Regions from separate parts of the Homo sapiens genome. Here region 2 is linked to region 1. The links come from fine-mapping of genetic effects on gene expression. Tissue or cell type: lung. Region 1 holds a variant in brackets; the other region holds the start of a gene. All regions are shown on one strand. Distances are between the middles of the regions.

What was found. PIP is the estimated chance that this variant, and not a neighbour inherited with it, causes the effect.
Region 2: OXCT2 starts here. The variant in region 1 is fine-mapped to the expression of OXCT2 in lung (TOPMed, PIP above 0.99).

The regions. Positions count from the first base shown.
Region 1 is chr1:39,535,027-39,537,707 of GRCh38, reverse strand. It overlaps the pseudogene PPIEL. Among named protein-coding and RNA genes, the nearest start is that of PABPC4-AS1, 29 kb to the left of the region's middle. The variant G/A (reference allele first, on the strand shown) is at 1,567.
Region 2 is chr1:39,769,891-39,772,571 of GRCh38, reverse strand. OXCT2 (3-oxoacid CoA-transferase 2) reads left to right here and starts at 1,224. Exons shown (of 1, transcript NM_022120.2): 1 at 1,224-2,681. The coding sequence starts at 1,317. The region is part of intron 3 of BMP8B (bone morphogenetic protein 8b); the gene reads left to right. RefSeq lists enhancers at 505-1,177, 1,178-1,851 and a silencer at 1,192-1,291.

The sequences.
Region 1 (2,681 bases):
CAAAAAGAGTAGAATAGGACATGGTCCTCATATGAAGGGCGTACCCAGTCTAGAGGCCCAGCCATGAAGAGGGGGGTTTCTTATTGCCACAACGAGATGTAGCTCCTTATCCTACGCCCCCTAGTCCCCTGGCAAACCCAGGCTTTTTATTTGTTTGTTTTGTTGTTGTTGAGGCAGAGTCTTGCTCTGTCTCCCAAGCTGGAGTGCTGTGACATGATCTTGGCTCACTTGCAGCCTCAACCTCCTGGGCTCAAGCAATCCTCCTGCCTCAGCCTCCCAAGTAGCTGGGACTTATAGATACATGCCACCACACCTGGCTAGTTTTAAATTTTTTGTAGAGATGGGATTTTTCTCTGTTGCCCAGGCTGGTCTTGTATTCCTGGACTCAAGTGATCCTCCTGCCTTGGCCTGCCAAAGTGCTGGGATTACAGGCGTGAGCCACGGTGCCTGGCCCCAGGCCTTTTAGACTGAACTCAGACATCACCTCCTTCAGAAAGCCTTCATGATGAGTGTTTGTGTGAGTATCTGTTTCTCTTTTTCACAAACACTTAGGTGACTCTAGTGCTCCCATTCTATGCACAAATGTCTCTGTCACTGGGCTTTGCCATTTTGTAGTGTAATTATCTTTTTTTTTTAACGGCTTTAGTAGGATATTATTTACATACCATCCAGTTTGCCCACTTAAAGTACACATTTTAATGGTTTTTAATGTATTCACAGAGTTGTGCAACCATCACCACAAATAATTTTAGAACATTTTATCCCCCAAAAGGAAACTTCATACCCTTTAGCAGTTGCTACTTATCCTGTTGGTCCCCTGCCCTGGGAAACCCGAATTTACTTTCTGTCTTTATGGATTTTCCCATTCTAGGCATTTAATATAAGTGGAATCATACAATATGTAGGCTTTTGTGAGTGTCTTCTTTCACTTAGCATAATGTTTTCAAGGTTCATCCATGTTGTAGCATGTATCAGTACATCATTCCTTTTTTTTCTTTTTGTTTTGGTTTTTGGTTTTTTTTTTTTTTTTTTTTTTTGAGATGGAGTCTCACTTTGTCACCCAGGCTGGATTGCAGTGGTGCAGTCTCGGCTCACTGCAAGCTCCGCCTCCTGGGTTCACACCATTCTCCTGCCTCAGCCTCCCAGCTGGGACCACAGGCACCCGCCACCACGCCTGGCTAATTTTTTGTATTTTTAGTAGAGATGGGGTTTCACCGTGTTAGCCAGGATGGTCTCGATCTCCTGACCTCGTGATCTGCCCACCTTGGCCTCCCAAAATGTTGGGATTACAGGCGTGAGCCACCGCCTCCGGCCCCATCATTCCTTTTTATTGCCAATTAATACCCACTGTCTGCACCCCACATTTGTTTATCCATTCATAAGTTGATAGATTGTTTCTACTTTTTGGCTATTACAAATAATGCCACTGTGAACATTCACATACAAATTTTTGTGTAGACATATGTTTTCATTTCTCTTAGATGTAGCCATAGAATTGGAAATGCTGGGTTATATAACTATTTATTTATTTTTTTTTGAGACAGAATTTCACTCTAGAGTGCAGTG[G/A]CACAATCTCGGCTCACTGCAACCTCCACCTCCCTGGTTCAAGAGATTCTCCTGCCTCAGCCTCCCCTAGCTAGGATTACAGGCATGCACCTCCATACTCGGCTAATTTTTGTATTTTTAGTAGAGACGGAGCTTTGCCATGATGGCCAGCTGGTCTCGAATTCCTGGCCTCAAGTGATCTGCACAAAGTGCTGAGATTACAGGCATGAGCCACCGTGTCTGGCTGATAACTATTTTTAATGTTTTGAGAAACGACCAGACTGTTTGAAGTGGCTGTACCATTTTGCATTCTTTTTTTTTTTTTGAGATGGAGTCTCACTCTGTTGCCCAGGCTGGAGTGCAGTGGCGCAATCTCAGCCCACTGCAAGCTCCGCCTCCCGGGTTCACGCCATTCTCCTGCCTCAGCCTCCCGAGTAGCTGGGACTACAGGCGCCTACCACCACGCCTGGCTAATTTTTTTGTATTTTTAGTAGAGACATGGTTTCACCGTGTTAGCCAGGATGGTCTTGATCTCCTGACCTTGTGATCCGCCCGCCTTGGCCTCCCAACGTGCTGGGATTACAGGCATGAGCCACTGCCCCATTTTGCATTCTTAACGGCAGTGTATGATGTTTCTGATGCCTCTATACCCTCACCAACACTTGTGATTATCCTTCTTTTTTTATTAGACCTATCCTAGTGATGTGAAGTGGTATCTCATTGTGGTTTTGATTGGCATTTCCGTGCTAGTTAATGATGTTGAGCATCTTTTCATGTGTTTATTGGCCTTCTCTATATCTTCTTTGGAAAAATGTCTCTTCAGACCCTTTACCAATTTTTAATTGGATTATTTGTCTTTCTATTGTTGAGTAAGAATTCTTTTGTTTTTTGTTTTTTGAGACAGGTTCTCACTCTGTCACCCAGCCTGGAGTGCAGTGATGTGATCACAGCTCACTGCAGCCTTGACCCTCTGGGCCCAAGTGATCCACCTGTCTCAGCCTTTCAAGTAGCTGGGACTACAGGTGCATGCCACCAGGCCCAGCTAATTTTATTTTTTGTAGAGACAGGGTCTCCCTGTGTTGCCCAGGCTTGCCTCAAGTGATCCGCCTGCCTTCACTTCTCAAAGTGCTGGGATT
Region 2 (2,681 bases), 230 kb before region 1:
TCTCTTTTGGCTGGAATATTACTGACCCCCCTGGGATGTTACTGAGATCACTGGTCCTCATGGAAATGCCATTACAGGGACCGGTGAGTGTGAAGACCCAGGCGAGGGAGGTGCTGGCATGTAAGTGGATTTAAAGCATGGGATGGGACCAGGTCATCTAGGGAAGGAGGGTAGTGATGGAGAAGAAAGAGGGCCTGGCCCAGAGCCCTGGGACCTCCAACATCCAGAGACCTCACAAGGAGGGGCCACAGAGAGCCCACAGAGACCAGCCAGGGAGGGAGCAGGACACCTGGAGGATGAGGTGATCTAGACGCCAGAGTAAAGTGTTTCCAGAAGCAAGGGTTTGTCATTTGTGTCCTGCTGTGGGCACTGAAGGCAAGAACAGAGAAGTGACCAAGGGTTTTGCCATCACAGAGGTTGTTGATGACCTAAATATCCGTGGAGTGTGGGTCTGACTGAGGAGGTGGAGGGAGACAGGCAGTGGAGGCAGGAGACAGCTCTTTCCAGAACCTTTGCTGGGGAAGGGGAGCAGAGACATGGGCTGGGGCTGGAGAGAACCCGGGACAAGGCAGGTCCTTTCCAGGTGAGGAGACGCCTGCACGCTGCTGTGGTGATGCAGTGATTCTGTGCAGAGGGAAGAAAACTGCAAAATTCCGCACAAGTTGGAGCAGGGAGCTGGAGTGGGGGAGGTGGAGAGGGCGGGGGGATGCAGAGGACAAGACGGGGGGCCTCTTCAGAGCAGGGACCCTTCCTGATGGAGGTGAGGGATACTGTCCCCACTGTCGCAGTGAGGGGTGAACCTGAGCTCTGGGAGGCTGTAGTGGGGCAGGCACTCACTCTCCGGGTTGTCACAGGATTAAAGGAGGGTGCTTGGCACAGAGTGATGCCCAGTGAAGGTGTTCATGAGCGTCGGTGTCACCCAGCGGCGCCTGCTCATTGGACACTTGGTGTCTTTAATGAGCTGGGGAAGCTGGGGGGAAGCTTGGGCGGGGTGGTTGGAGTTTGTGTCTGAGGCTCCACTGGGGCAGGAGGGGACCTAGCCTGTGCCCTTCTCGCGGAGCCTGACCTCAGCTCTGTCCTGCGCCCGGGCCTGTGCGCTGGACACGGAGGACTGACTCGGGGGCCCCCAGCCCAGGGCGGAGCCGGCCCCCTCCCTGTTGCGGGTCGCGGGCCTAGCCTAGAGCCTGCGCCTGGCCGGGGAGACCTGCTGGGAGGGAGTGCGTCAGGGCGCGGGCGCCCGCCCTGCTCTGTGACGCGCGGCCCGAGGCGCACGCAGGGCTCACACCACCTGTCCTGGCCTCCGACCCGGGCCGACTATGGCGGCGCTGCGGCTCCTGGCGTCAGTGCTCGGGCGCGGGGTCCCCGCCGGCGGCTCAGGGCTCGCGCTGTCCCAGGGCTGCGCCCGCTGCTTTGCCACCAGTCCCCGGCTCCGTGCCAAGTTCTACGCGGACCCGGTGGAGATGGTGAAGGACATCTCTGACGGGGCGACCGTCATGATCGGGGGCTTCGGGCTCTGCGGGATCCCCGAGAACCTGATCGCCGCGCTGCTCAGGACCCGCGTGAAAGACCTGCAGGTGGTCAGCAGCAACGTGGGCGTGGAGGACTTCGGCCTGGGCCTCCTGCTGGCCGCCAGGCAGGTCCGTCGCATCGTCTGTTCCTACGTGGGCGAGAACACCCTGTGCGAGAGCCAGTACCTGGCAGGAGAGCTGGAGCTGGAGCTCACGCCCCAGGGCACCCTGGCCGAGCGCATCCGCGCGGGGGGCGCCGGGGTGCCCGCCTTCTACACCCCCACGGGCTACGGGACCCTGGTCCAGGAAGGGGGCGCCCCCATCCGCTACACCCCGGACGGCCACCTGGCGCTCATGAGCCAGCCCCGAGAGGTGAGGGAGTTCAACGGCGACCACTTCCTTTTGGAGCGCGCCATCCGGGCAGACTTCGCCCTGGTGAAAGGGTGGAAGGCCGACCGGGCAGGAAACGTGGTCTTCAGGAGAAGCGCCCGCAATTTCAACGTGCCCATGTGCAAAGCTGCAGACGTCACGGCGGTGGAGGTGGAAGAGATCGTGGAGGTGGGGGCTTTCCCCCCAGAAGACATCCACGTTCCTAACATTTATGTAGATCGCGTGATAAAGGGGCAGAAATACGAGAAACGAATTGAGCGCTTAACGATCCTGAAAGAGGAAGATGGAGACGCTGGAAAGGAAGAGGACGCCAGGACGCGCATCATCAGACGCGCAGCTCTGGAATTTGAGGACGGCATGTACGCCAATCTGGGCATAGGCATCCCCCTGCTGGCCAGCAACTTCATCAGTCCCAGCATGACTGTCCATCTTCACAGTGAGAACGGGATCCTGGGCCTGGGCCCGTTTCCCACGGAAGATGAGGTGGATGCCGACCTCATCAATGCAGGCAAGCAGACGGTCACGGTGCTTCCCGGGGGCTGCTTCTTCGCCAGCGACGACTCCTTCGCCATGATCCGAGGGGGACACATCCAACTAACCATGCTTGGAGCCATGCAGGTTTCCAAATACGGCGACCTGGCGAACTGGATGATCCCTGGCAAGAAGGTGAAAGGCATGGGCGGTGCCATGGACTTGGTGTCCAGTCAGAAGACCAGAGTGGTGGTCACCATGCAGCACTGCACAAAGGACAACACCCCCAAGATCATGGAGAAATGCACCATG